Linked DNA regions of Homo sapiens. The protein of the gene in region 1 interacts with the protein of each later gene in a pairwise test. Each region holds a gene or a part of one and is shown on either strand. Other genes may lie near its edges.

Region 1 (6,736 bases):
CTTTGACTTTCAGTCTTTAAACTGCTTTCATTTAATCTAATTAAGTTGTATGTAGATTTTCTATATTAGTCTTACACTTAGTTTTTAGTGCTTTCTATATTTTATTATTTTATCTTTCCATTCTTTTATTCTCATTGGTTTTAATATTTTTGTTCTATTTTCCCTTTTATAATCTTGTTACTTTTATGTTGAACTCTTTTGTCAAAAGCCCCTTGTTGGGAAAGTCTAGAGACTTTGTATATCAAATACAAAGCACTGTGCCTCTGAGCCTAGGATTTGCTGTTACAAAGAATTAATGAGAAGGTGGCTAAACTGCATAGGAAAACCATTTCTGTATTTATAGAGTAAGCTATTAATGCCATTGTAAGAATTACCAATATAGTGCTTTGTAAGTCCTCTAAGATCTGCATCTGTCACATTTGGCCAGACCCACTTGAACAGTCCTTTTCATTAGATGCTAATTACTGGCTTCTGTGCGAGGGACAGAAAGATTATTCACACAACTCACATCCACACAACAGCCAATCCTGTTAGGCTTTGACCTTCAGCTTTCAGCTCTGTATTTACTTTATTACATAAACATAAATATTATATTGTGATGTATATTCTTTTATATATTTTTTTCAAATACATAACTCTTATACATATATATTTTTATATATATAATTCTTAAATATATATTTCCAAATATAAATTATTTCATGTCAAGCTAAACAGGATAAAAACATGTAAACATATACACTTGGTTTTGGTCAAGTAAAACACAAAATCACAAGTTCATCACAGTTTAACAAGTGCACTTGAAGGGGAAGGAGGGAAAGAACAAACTGTAAACAAACAGATGAGCAGCTGCAAAGCCCTGCAAGGGTCCATTTGTTAAGGCTATTATAGCACAAAGCTACTAGTTCAATTAAAACTTCTCCTTTCACTCTGCCACATTTACTCTTGAGGGTCTTCAAAATAAGTGTGGAAATTCAGTAAACACTACACTAGAACTGAGTTAATCCTGTTGACAACAGAGATGACAAAAAAAAGCCATAAGCTGACATTAATATTAATTTCACCAAAACAGTAACTTTAAGGACTTATTTTTTAACACAGATAATCACCATAATCCTAGGGGGAAAGATATGCAGAATAGACAAGAAAACAGAAGCACTGCCTCAACAGCCCCTGAAAGCAGTAAGAGTGTCAACACAGGGAAAACAGGCAATAGCAGACGACAGAACCTCAGCAGACTAGACCACATGCCACAGCACGATGCTACAGAATCAAATTGAAATATTCTTCCAGCTCATAATGAAGCAAGTCCCACTGGTCCTCAGAGAAGGGTAACTCATCTCTCAGTGAAAGAAACCGCTTAAACAACAGACTGGCCAGCCGAAGCACGACAAGCTCCTTCTTAATGCTTTTATAGAGCATGTTGCCCTCTCCCATTCGCACAGGCTCCACAAGTTGATGCCAGTATGCGCTGAATGACCCACCACCTGGCCCAGGAGGCTCATCTCCCCAGCCCTCAGGGTATTCATGCTTGTAAAAGCATGTGTCTCCAAATGGGCAGTTACCCCTGCCTTCCGCAAAATACCTGCAGGCCTTGTTGCTCATTGCCTCCTTGTATTGCTGAATAAGTTTCTGCTTCTCTTCCTCCTCCTCCACCCAGAACTCACTGGGAATGACCAATTCAGAGGTGACCCTGCACTGTGGGCAAGACTTGACGATCCTGTTCTCAAACTGTCTGGCACTTCTCCACCTGCGGATACACCTAATACAGAAGGAATGGTTGCAATTGGAAAGAATGCCAAAGCGGCGGTCATTGGGGTTGGCCTTCTCATAGACAACCTCCATGCAGATGCCACACACCTTGTCCATACCACGCTGCACAGCAAACGAGAGTTCCATATCTTTCTCGTGTGCTTCAATGCAGGCCCTCATATGTTCTTCCCTCTGGGCAGCATCCATGGGGTGCAAGGTCTGCAGCCCACACATGTCGCATATGTCTCCATGGAGGTACATACAGCTCTCCCCACGAAAGCAAACTCCCCTGGAAGCATAATAGCAAAACCGCAACCCACTGCCCACAGCCATCTGCTTCCTCTCAGTCTCTGAGCTCTGTAGAGGAGCCTCGGGGGCAGATGCAACCCAGCGGCCCCGGTAGGGCTGCCCTGGAACAAACTCAATGGCATCCGCCCAGCTTTCTACACCTGCTCCTCCAGCAGCTCCACGGTCTGCATTGTCTCTCTCGGCTTCAAAGAAACCCCTTTCAGCAGCCGAGCCAATCACAGGCAAGGAAAGGGAGGATGCAGCCGGGGGGGCTTCCGCCACTTCCTGAGTCGGGGGCTCGATGTGCGCAGCCGTGCTAGGGCCTCCACCTGCAGAGGCCCCAGGCGGCGAAACGCCACCCTCAGTGGCCATCTTCCGACCAGAAAGGTCGTGCGAATAGCGACAGTTCTCCCCCTCCTTGCACTGCCCATGTATATAATACCTGCAGATGATCTGCTTTGTCCAAATGCCGCTGCTTCGGCTTGGCAACGGACTGGGCCAGGCTCCTCCTCCTGAGGCTGGGGCAGGCCTCAGGCCTCCTCTGCGGAGGTGGGCAGGGACTGGAGCTACAGGGAAGGGGGCCCAGCCCCTTGCCGCATGTGGCAGGGCTGAATCTGGAGCAGCAGATTCCCCGGAGGGCTCACAGACGGGAAGGTCCGGCCCAGACACACCCTCCCTTGCTGCCTCAGCACCTGCCTGGGCCCCGGCTGCCTCGTGGGCTTCTGAGGGAGCTGCAGGCTCTTCCATGGCTGCTTTGGCACCCCGAAATGGTGCCAGAACCTCTCCGGTATTTTTTCTTTATGGGCTTGAGGCCCGGAATGGCGGCCGCGCTCGGAGGCTTCTCTGGGGGAAGTGTGCATCTCTTTTTCCTTCCCCCCTGCTTTTGGGTCCCTCTGACTGTGTGTTCCTACCTACTTCCGGGCACAGGCAGCATGGCGGACACTTCCTGTGGGGGCAACGTACGTGCTCTGCCTGGTTTTTACCGCAATTTTCCAATCTGACATATTTTTTCGTTCACACAGGCGGGGACCAACCCAGCCCCTTTTGTCTGCCTTCTGCCTCTGCTTCGCTGTGTTCCGGCAGTCCCTAAGTCCCTTCTCACACGATTTCCTCAGGAGAATGAGGTTTTACTTTAATCTCTTCTGGTTTCGGTCATGCACGCTTCGTTGTATTTTCGTATCTGTCTGCCTTAAAAAAAATATAATCCTATAGATTCTGAAACATTTCATCCATGAATTATATAAATTCTTTTTTTATTCACTCCATCTTATGTCTGTGGTTTTTTTCTTTTAATGCCCGATCGCGGCAGGAAGCTTTTTTCAATTCGTTCGGTTGACAAGGCGCCGTTTCTTTTGGTCTTTGTTTTCTGGGATTTCTGAGGGCTTACACTGGATACGCTTTTCACCAGCAAGGCATTAGCAGAGAGCACTTCTGATCCGAGGCTAAGTTAGCACCTTTCAGATGTCTTTCTTTATTGTGATTACTATGCTCATTTTCCCACTGTGTTAGAAGCGCCAGACTTCAACCAGTCCTGATGCTGGCCTAATAAGACACTGTCCCCTGCATGACCCAGGCTTTTATTTTCTCTACTGGTTTAATTCATGGCAGCCCTTTGTTTCCCTTCCTTTCTTTCAACCCCATCTGTGCTGTGTTGTGGCAGGACAGCCTTTCATAACATATCCTGTGCCATATTATCCACAAAGGAATGGTCTTTAATTTCCATGTATGAGCGTTTTGTCATTTTTGCAGATAAATGTAGTAGATTAATCATTTTTTTGTATTCCTACTTTGCTGAGAGTACGTATCATGACTGCATACTGAATTCTGTTATGTAGTTTTATACATTTTTTGAGACAATTTTGTTTTTCCCTTTATTCTCTTAATGTGATTATTTGCAGCTATGAGTTTCAAATATTTAACTAACCAATTTGTTTCTAATAAGAAGCCCTTCTGTCATGATATATCATTTTATATATTATTGGATTTTTTTTCTATAAGTTTCTTTGAGGAAATTTTGTTGCCTAAATCTGTAAAGTGGAAACATATCTGAATATTTATAATCACCCAAGTCAACAAATTAAATTATAATTAAGTAGGTAAAAGCAATGAAAGCAGAATGAAGCAAATAATAAGGGCAAGAAAAGCAATGAAGAAAAACAAATATTAAATAAGGGAAATAAATTAAGTAAAATCCCTTAAACTGCTTATTGAAGCCAGATAATTTCTGGTGAAATTTATCAAGGAAAAATGAAGAAGGCTCTAATACCCAAGATCAGTAATTTCAAATATGTTATCACTACATTAATAACAGACATTAAAAATCATTAGAGAATATCAGGAACAAAGTTAGGAGATAAAACTTGAAAAGTTACATGAAATAGTCATATTGGTGGAAACATCTATTAGTAAAAATGACAGGAGCAGAAATACATGTGAATATGGATCTGTTAAATTACATCTGTAATTTAGATAATTATCTAAATAAAGGTCTCTAAAACTTTCTCTCTGAAATAAATCTAAAGGCAAAAAAAATCTGTATTTATTATTGCAAGTCCTAGCTAGTGTAATAGCAAAGAAATAAAAGATGTTATAACTGGAAAGAAATTATTGATGGAATGCAACAGAAAATTGAGAATAATTTACAGATAAGCTATTAGATTTAATAGGTACATTTAGCAAGGACACTGGACAGGAGTCCAATATATGAAAATCATTTTTATTTCTCTATCATCAATAACATTTGAAGTAAACATTTAAAATTAATAACATTCATAACAACATTAAAAGTTAGCTAACCTAGGAATTAAACTAATTAAGGTTATACAATAAAATTAAAAACATTTTAGCTTCAGAAGACCTAAATAAATTGTGGGATACTTTATATATAGTCTTTATAGTCGGTCAGTAGAAGGCTCAATGTTTTTAAAAGGTAGTCTTTTCCTAATTTGATAATTATTTGAAAATGGTGCTGATTATTCATCGTGAATGTAGGAAATGTTGGATTTATCTTTCTCCTTTTCATAGTTACCAAGTTTTATATTTTGCATGCAAGCTGTCCCAAAGTCTGCCTCACTTGAACTTTCTGAAACAAACTTTCTCTTTATCAGGATTTGTTTGTCAGCCCCAGTGATTTTTACAAGAAAAAGACTTGCAGCACAGCTCTCAGGCTTCTACGCCAAGCTCTCTACAAATTCACAAACATAAGAATCCTGAATATAAAATTATTACTGGCTTAATTGTGATATTTTCCTAGCACTGCATCTATTATTTGCTTAATTGTGATATTTTCCCAGCACTGTATCTAAATCATATTTGACCCTCTCTTGATGCACCAGCACTGTCCAGAGGAACTTTCTGTGAAGAATTTATATATATGCATGCTGTACAGTATGAAAGCTAGCCCCATGGGGTTCTTGGGCACTTGAAATGAGGCTAGAGTGACGGAGGAAATGAATGTCCATTTTTTAAATTATAAATTTAAATAGCCACATGAGGCTAGTAGTTACTGCATTGGAGTGAAGTTCTATACAATATTTGACCATCTCATCTCCTAACACAAGGGAACTGAGAAGCATATGTTTCCTCACCTGCCCAAGGCTATGCAGCTGGTGCCAGGCAGTGTTTGCTTCCAAATGCCCACCTGTGTGGCTGCCACTGGTGTTCATGTCTTATAGTCTGATAGTGACTTTATCTTTTAGTTTTGTCGTGACAATATTTCATATAAACTGTTATAAGCCAATATTGTATCCCATGATTTTAAATACCATAAAAAATTGAATAACTGGAAATAACTGGGCAGTGCATCTTGAGAAAAATAAACTAGTTCCCATCCTATCCAAATGTCTTCAGAGATCATTTCCTCTGACTGCCATTGTCTATATTCCTGCCATGATATATACATATGTATATTTTTTGAGCATCAATATTGTTTTTACAGTTCTCAGAAAGTAGACATTTAGTCATTTGTCTAGTTATTTGGCTCAGCTGTGCCTTCTTTTCTAACAAAACACTGACAGCCTCAGAGGCTGGGACCTGGTTTCCTTGTGCACACACCAGTCTGCAGGGTAGCATGGGATCCCCTGGCCGGTCAGCATTTGGGGGTCCGAATGGAATGAGTGCAAGGCTGGGCGATGGCAGAGCTGAGGTGAAGTCCGGGCAGTCTAAGAATATCCTAAGAGGAGGGAGCAAGTTCAGAAGTGAACTGCAGGATGGAGAGAAGCTGCAAAGTCCTGCAGTTTTTTACTCCAAACAGCTCAGGCATGCGCTGCCTAGCCCCGTGTGGTTAACATGTCCGTATTTAAAGAACACACAATTAATTGCCTAAAAGCATTATCCTTCTCAGCACTCTCCTATCCTTCAGATCTAACCTTTAGGCACTGCCGGCTGCCGGCGGGGTCCAGGACCCAGCGGGGCTGGGCGCGCGGAGCAGCGCTGGGTGCAGCGCCTGCGCCGGCAGCTGCAAGGGCCGCAGAAATTAAACGCGAGTGTCCAGAATCGGGCATTGTGGGTTTAAATCCTGAATCCACTGGTCACTATCTGAGACTTTCCCCTGTCACAAATTAGTTACCTTCTTTTATCCCATCTGACAACGGGAATAATAACAGCAAGAATTACACCGACTAGTTCACAGGTTTGCTGTATTAATTAATTTATAATAATTCATTAATTCTTATAAAGTGATTGGAACGATGCCTGA
Region 2 (7,309 bases), on another chromosome or scaffold:
TGCTGGTGCTCCTGAGGGGACCCTTAGGGAAGCCCAGGGCCCCTGCGGATGGGAACCTCCCTCCACCAAAGTCTGACCCTGAAGCATGCAGGCCGTTCAGCCGAGGGTGTCCCTGTACTCCTGGGTGGCCAGCTGCTTAGTGTGAATGGTCTCTCTGCATTGCAGGGCCATCGGCCACTCGCCAAAAAGAGAGCTGGTGCATTTGGGTTTTGCTGAGACTCGGAATGCTGGAAGATTCTGCCTGAGCCCAGCAGGCTCTTGGCTTTGCTATCCCTTCCCAATGCCCTTGGCTGTCAGTTCTCTGGAAAGTGGCAGAGAGGAAGGAGCCACAGTGCTGCGTGCCGCCACCAAGGGGAAAGCTCTTCAACCAGGTTCAGAGCCAAGTCGCTGAGAGTTGCTTCTCATCCTTAGCACATTTCCTACCAGGGGCAGGATGAGTTAATTTTCGGGATGGGGATCTAACTGGCTGGCGGTTTAAAGGGCCCTTCTATTTAGCAGCCATGAGGGCTGCTAGAGTTCCTATCTCCCATTGAAGAAGGGGCTTCTTCAAGCAGACAGACCAAACATCATTTCAAAATGAGGACTGCATTTGAAATCTACTGAAGGGGGTGATACCGGGGGCCTGAAGCCTGGGGTTTGAGCTCACTTCTAGGGTGACCAATTCTTCTGTTTGCCTGGGACTGTGGGGTTTCCTACGACAGGATTTTCAGTGCTAAAACTGGAAAAGTCCTGGGCAAATGGAGATGAGCTGCTCACTCTAGTTTGACCCCATTCTTTCTGTGTTCTCACCAACTTTCAGTCTTTCATTTTGCAGATTGAGAGAATCAAGGTACTAATAAAACCTGCTGTCCCCATCTCCCAAACCCGTGGGACTCAAAAGAGCTGACGTCAGTATCCCATGGCACCTTAAGCCTCCCCATCAGGGCACATCCCACTGCTGACACACCTCTGCAGGCCTCTTCTTCCTCTCAGTTTGAGCTTTCTTGGGTGAGACCCCTTTATTCATCTCAGAGCATTCCTGGGCTTGGCTAAGAGCAGAAACTCGGGAAAGCTGTGCTTATAAAGCAAAGCACAAAGCATTCCCACCTGTTGGTTGGTGTCCTTCTTTTCTGTCCTGCCCTGGTTAGCCCCATGGGAAGGTCCTCTACAGGCTCCGACAGACAGGCGTGCCCCTGAGGGCGGCTGTCAGGAGGAAAACAGGGCAGCACGGGCAGGAGGCTTGGTCACTGCTTTGTTCTGAACGAGGCCGGGACAAGGAACCAGACAAAAGGTGGACAGGTATAGTGAGCAACCAGGGAGGGCCTGGTGGGGAGGTGAGGAAGCAGCAGGTCCCCACCCTGGGGAAGAGAAGGGCTTTAGCTGGAATCTTAACAAATAGGCCAATCTCATCCTCCAGCCTCTGGGACTCCAGCACGGACTCCCTTGGCTGCCTGCCTCCCTGACTCTCTCAGAGGCTGCCCATCCCTTGCAGCTCCTTGCGGGGCTGCCTTCCTGGGGGGTCAGCCAGATCTCAGCATGCTGAGTTGTCTGTCCCCTTGGCCTGGACATGGCCCAGCTCCGCAGGGTGATATCTGGTGGGCAGTCTGCCCCAAACCTCAGCCCTCCATCTCCCCCTCACCCCTTGATTCTCCCATCCCAGCCGCAGGCCTGCTTCTCTGCCTCTAGGCTCCTGGACACATAGGGTCTTGGCTTTGGGTGGCCACCCAGGGTCCCAGCTTCAGTCTTAGCTCTCAGAGCCTTAACCTCAGCTGAACTTCCCTGGTAAGCGAGCCCTGTGGCTCTAGGACCACTTGGGGCTGGCCAAAGCATGGTGGGGAGGAGGATGACTCAATGGCAGCCTGATTCAGGAAAGCCCCTCACCAGCCCTCGCCAGTCTGCACCCAGAGGATCCATTTCACGTGTCCTCCAAATCCTGGCTGATCCTGTTTCATTCTCTTGCTGGACACCCTTTCTGGGGCCCAGGAGTGCTGGGACACAGACATGGTCCCCATCACCAGAGAATCCTAGAACTCTCAGTGGAAGAAACCCCAAAGGTAACTGGTCCAGTCTCCTGCATTTGGATGGACTAGACAGAAATTCATGCTCAGAGCACCTAGGCACAGAGAGGGTGAGTAACTTCCCCAGGGTCACACAGTAAAGGAATGATCAGCTGCTCCTGAGCCACCTACCTGAACTCTCCTTTCTCCGCCTGGATGATTTCTTCTCTGTCTCATTGGCAGTGCTCCCAAGCACCCCGTAGTCATCGCCTGGGCCTCCTGTGGTGTCCACCAGGCCCAGGCTGCTGGTCCCCATTTCCTTGGAACCCCCTGCCGGGCCTGAGTTGGGCCTGCGCCGGGCGTCTGAGACAGGGAAGTGCCAGTTGGGGGACTGTGGGAAAGCGGGGTGCTGCTCAGTGAAGATGTGCTCCTCCTGGGGCAGGCTGTGTGGGGTGGCTGCCAGGCAGGAGGCTGAGAAGTCAGGGTACGCTGCCGTCGCTGTCGCCAGGAAGTCTGGTTTCTGGTGGAAGGAGAACGGGGTGGGCGGGTAGTGGGGTAGCCCTGAGGCCCCATTGCCTTCCGAGTGGGGGTTTCGAAGGCAGCCCCAGACAGGGGCTGGGGGCTGGAGGCTCCTCATGCAGCTGCTGGCCGCGGGATCCATCTGCTGTCCGCTGCACGCCTCGGTCCTTTCAAAGATTTGATTCTTTATACTTTTTATGTTCAAATTTTTAAAAATGCAAAAGAAAAAAAACTAAATAGGAGGGAAAAATGTTCAACAGAAAATTTACCCCAGGAACCAAAAAAAAAAAAAAACCCAAAACTAAAGTCTCTCCTTAAAGTACACACACATGTGGCCAGCTACTCCTATGTGTGTGCACACACCTATGTCGGGCTTGCTCCTGCCCCTCCAATGCACCAGCCTACCTACTGGGATCCCCTGTATGTGTATTTGTCGCCAATGACACTAAACATTTTCACTGTCCCAACCCAGACGCACCAGCTGACGAGGAGTTCGTCCTGGAGCCCAGAGCAAATGCCTGCAGAGGGCTGGACCAGGGCTGCTGGGACACACTTTTAAATCCTGCGGTGGGGAGAGAGTGACAAATTTCTGAAGTGAAATGTGAGAGAGGAGAGGGAGGGGTTAACCCACACACACAAGATCCCCTCCAACCAAAACCCTAGCAGGCAACTATTAATCATCAGAAACCTTATATGCACATCTAATGGGATTTGCAGATGGAGACTTTTAAAGAAACATTGTCTGTATTTTTTTTTTAAGGAAAGAGAGCAGCACACACACACATACACACACACCGTCTTTAATGTGCCTCCTGTAACACTATGAAGTTATTTTTATTGCACTGTTAACAAAATTCCCCAAGTCTTGGATTTAGAAAAAGCCTTAAGTCAGATCCAGAATCCATCAAATGCCAAATTCCAGGGAGTGAAGTGAGGAATAAGAGCAAGAGACAAGCTTGGTGATTGCATTTGATTTAAAGGCCCTTCTACTGCTGCCTGCGAAAAAGGAAGGTGGATTAAAAGAAATCTTTTTTGCAAGTCTCAGCGGCCCACTGTGGTCTGCAGTACAAAGAAAGGCACACTCTAGAAAAAAAGAATTTCTCTCTGCCCAGAGTGACATTCTCACTTTCTCAGTAACTTAAAAAAACAATCAGATTCTTCCTTCCGCTCTTTAACCTCCAACATACATGCCAATTAGCCACACTCTTCTCTAGAGAGGTTTCAAGTCATTTTTCTTCACAGCAATGGCAAGGCTCTTAAATAAGGTCCTTGAAGTTTCTTCGGGTCTCCTCCCACCTGCTCCCTGCCCCCTTCACCTCCACCCACCTGCTTCCCTTTCTCATCCCCCAGAGGCGGAGGCTTCCGAGGAATTTGGGGTAGGGAAATAGGAATCAGGGGCTCCTCATTCCCCAAAGGAGCCTCTTTGGCAAGCAGGCACGTGGGTCTCCGGGCTGGTGCACATCACAGGGCAGCCAGCCCAAGTGCCATCTTGATGCCCAGTCTTCCTCATGGCTGCGCCCTGCTGGTCTCTCAGAGGGTTAATGCAATTTCTTGGAGGACGACATTCCTAACACCCAGGGGCCAGAACTCCTTCCCCACTGGTTATTCCCATGGCCCAGAGCAGCAGGATGGGGGCAGAAACAGGCATGGACCTTAACAGCAGCGTCTCTGCTGGCTGCTTCCAAAGACGGCGAGGGTTCCCTGAGGAGGGGCCCCTAGGTCTTAGCTCTGCAGCCTGGAGGTGGGGCCCTGGGGGGTGGGTGCAGGAGATGCTCCTAGGAGGAGCCGAAGGGCACCCAGGGATGTGGAATGAAGCCACGACTGGCCTTTAATCCAGAAACTCCAGTCAGATACACATCCTGGGAGCAGGAGCAGCTGTAAAAGATGGGGAGGGGTGTACATATGAAAAGATGTGCCCTCTTCTGGAACAAGCGGTCAGAGTGTTGTAGACCAGTAGAGTGGATGGGGTCATAGCTGTCAACCAGACTCATCTTTCTGCTTTGCCCAGGGCTTAGCTGTGGCACACACAATTCTCTGAGCCTCACAACTTTCCTAGGATGGGTAAGTAAGAATTATGTCTCCATTTTGCAGATGACAAAACCGAGGCTCAGATGGATGACTGGGCTGCCCAGACTCACACAGCTAAGAAATGGTGGAATCAGCACTTGGCCTCAGGTGTCCTGCTGTTCAGTTTGGAGCAGGCCAGATGCAGAGGAGGAGGCATGGGGTTTGAGGTTAGACGGGTCTGAGTTCAAGCCCCAGGTCTGCCACTTCCTGGCTGTGTGCCCTGGAACAAGTCACCTTATCTCTCTGAACTTCTTTTTTTTTTTTTTCTTTTTGAGATGGAGTCTCGTTCTGTCGCCCAGGCTGGAGTGCAGTGGCATGATCTCAGCTCACTGCAAGCTCCGCCTCCCGGGCTCACGCCATTCTCTTGCCTCAGCCTCCCGAGTAGCTGGGACTACAAGCACCCGCCACCACGCCCGGCTAATTTTTTGTATTTTTTAGTAGAGACGGGGTTTCACCGTGTTAGCCAGGATGGTCTCAATCTCCTGACCTCGTGATCCGCCCGCCTCGGCCTCCCAAAGTGCTGGGATTACAGGCATGAGCCACCATGCCTGGCCATCTCTCTGAACTTCTGTTTCCTCATCTGAGATGACAGTCAGAGTGGGATCTGTGTAAGGCACTTTGCACCTTACACATTTTTACCCCCACGGATTCCCACAAAAGCCTTCTGAGGCAACAGTCATTCTCATCAGCTCCGTTTCTCTCTCTCTCTTTTTTTTTTATCAGCTCCGTTTTTCAGCAGAAGACTCTGATGCACAGATAGACTGTGTAACCTGCACAAGGCCACACAGCAGGGAAGCGGCGGACCCAGGATTCAAATTGAGGCAGCCCAGCCCACAGACATTTGCAAATCTTCAATGAAATCCTTTATGTAGGCCAGGCACGGTGGCTCAGACCTATAATCCCAGCACTTTGGAAGGCTGAGGCAGGCAGATCATTTGAGGCCAGGAGTTCAAGACCAGCCCGGCCAACATGGTAAAACCCCGTCTCTAATAGAAATACAAAAATTAGGCCGGGCGCGGTGGCTCACGCCTGTAATCCCACCACTTTGGGAGGCCGAGGCGGGTGGATCATGCGGTCAGGAGATCGAGACCATCCTGGCTAACACAGTGAAACCCCGTCTCTACTAGAAATACAAAAAAAAAAAAAAAAAGGCGGGCGTGGTGGCGGGCGCCTGTAGTCCCAGCTACTTGGGAGGCTGAAGCAGGAGAATGGTGTGAACCCGGGAAGCAGAGCTTGCAGTGCACCGAGATCACGTCACTGCACTCCAGCCTGGGTGACAGAGCGAGACTCCATCTCAAAAAAAAAAAAAAAAAGAAATACAAAAATTAGCTGGGTGTGGTGGCACATGCCTGTAATCCCAGCTACTCGGGAGGCTGAGGGCAGGAGAATCGCTTGAGCCTGGGAAGCAGAGAGGTTGCGGTAAGCCAAGATTGTACAACTGCACTCCGGCCTGGGCGACAGAGTGAGACACTGTCTCAAAAAAAAAAAAAAAGAAAAAGAAAAAGAAATAAAGAAAGAAATCCTTTATGCAAAAGGCAGAGTAAGTAATGGACAAATGTGGCTCCCTTCCTAGCACATCTATTTCTGGTTAACCTCGATGATCCCAAAGGGTGAACCTGGGAATGGGGAGTTCTGAGGAAATTCTACAGAAACAGCCTTGTGAGGTCCTTTGTGGGGGGCACGCTGTGCTGTGGGGGTTCTGGAAGGAATCCGTGGGAGGCTGGGAGGAAGATCTGGCTTGTCAGCTTCCCTAGGAAAACCTTCCCCTGGGCTGGCCGCAGGCTGTAACCGGATTCCTGCTCCACCTCTGCATCTGGCCCAGGGACCTCATGGCAGGGAGGCCCAGCGCCTGGCCCTTTGCCCCTGGACGGGGTGGGCCCTGGGTCATGGTGGGGTGGGTGGGGAGGTCAGGAGGGCCATGGGGAGGGGGCGCGGTGGGGTGCTTTGCCCTGAGAACACAGGCCTCTGGCACCCCGGAGCCCCCGGCAGCTGCTGGCGTCTGTCAGCCACCTTGCGGGGCGCGGCCGGGGGCTGCTGGCCCCTACATCTTCCTGACAGGCCCCTCTTCTGAGGCCAGGAAAAAACAACAACAGTTCCTCCCCTCACGGCAACCCATTTGTTAGATGAAGGCCGGGCACCAGCACCTTTAACCTCCTCAAAGTCAGCGTTTCCCTGTCAAGGCCCCACAGGGCCAGAGACAGAGATGGATGGAAGGAGCTGTGTGTCGAAAAAGCCCTGTGGCCTCATGAGGAGAGCTCTGTTTTCAGGAAGGGAGGGGACCCCGGTTTCTGATTGTTGGGGAGAATAAGGGGAGGAAGAGGAAAAGTGTGAGTCACGAGGAGGTCCCCCAGGGGCGTGGGGGGGCCCAGGAGGGCTTTCAGCCTGGCCACACCTGAGCCATCACGTGGAACTTGCGGAATGTCTCCCATTGTGCGTGGCAGGCAGGCGTGTACTTGGCAGGACAGGGCTGCTTCTGTTTGTGGCCACCCCACCCCCTTGTGCTTGGAGAGGCAGGGTGTCAGGGCAAGGCCCTGGACCTGGAGGCAGAAGACACGGGTTCAAGGTGTGACCTTGCCTGTTACCGGCTGTGTGGTCTCAGGCAAATCACACCCTTCTCTGAGCTTCATTTTTCTCACTGGCAAAATGGAGTTGACAGTTCCGGCCTCACCTGGCGGTTAGGAGGATAAATGAACTGCATCTGAGAACAGAGCTGGCTGACTATAAAGGGTGATGCATGTGAGGAATAG

What was found.
Region 2: the proteins of MKRN3 (region 1) and MEOX1 interact in binary tests that used the Homo sapiens proteins (3 or more experiments, as listed by UniProt).

What each region holds. Positions count from the first base shown.
Region 1 is NC_000015.10:23,561,834-23,568,569, reverse strand, and holds MKRN3 (E3 ubiquitin-protein ligase makorin-3), read right to left. Parts: upstream 2,897-6,736; 5' UTR 2,788-2,896; coding exon 1,264-2,787; 3' UTR 526-1,263; downstream 1-525. UniProt on the Homo sapiens protein: E3 ubiquitin ligase catalyzing the covalent attachment of ubiquitin moieties onto substrate proteins.
Region 2 is NC_000017.11:43,658,898-43,666,206, forward strand, and holds the start of MEOX1 (homeobox protein MOX-1), read right to left. Parts: upstream 3,026-7,309; 5' UTR 2,638-3,025; coding exon 2,169-2,637; intron 1-2,168. UniProt on the Homo sapiens protein: Mesodermal transcription factor that plays a key role in somitogenesis and is specifically required for sclerotome development. Required for maintenance of the sclerotome polarity and formation of the cranio-cervical joints.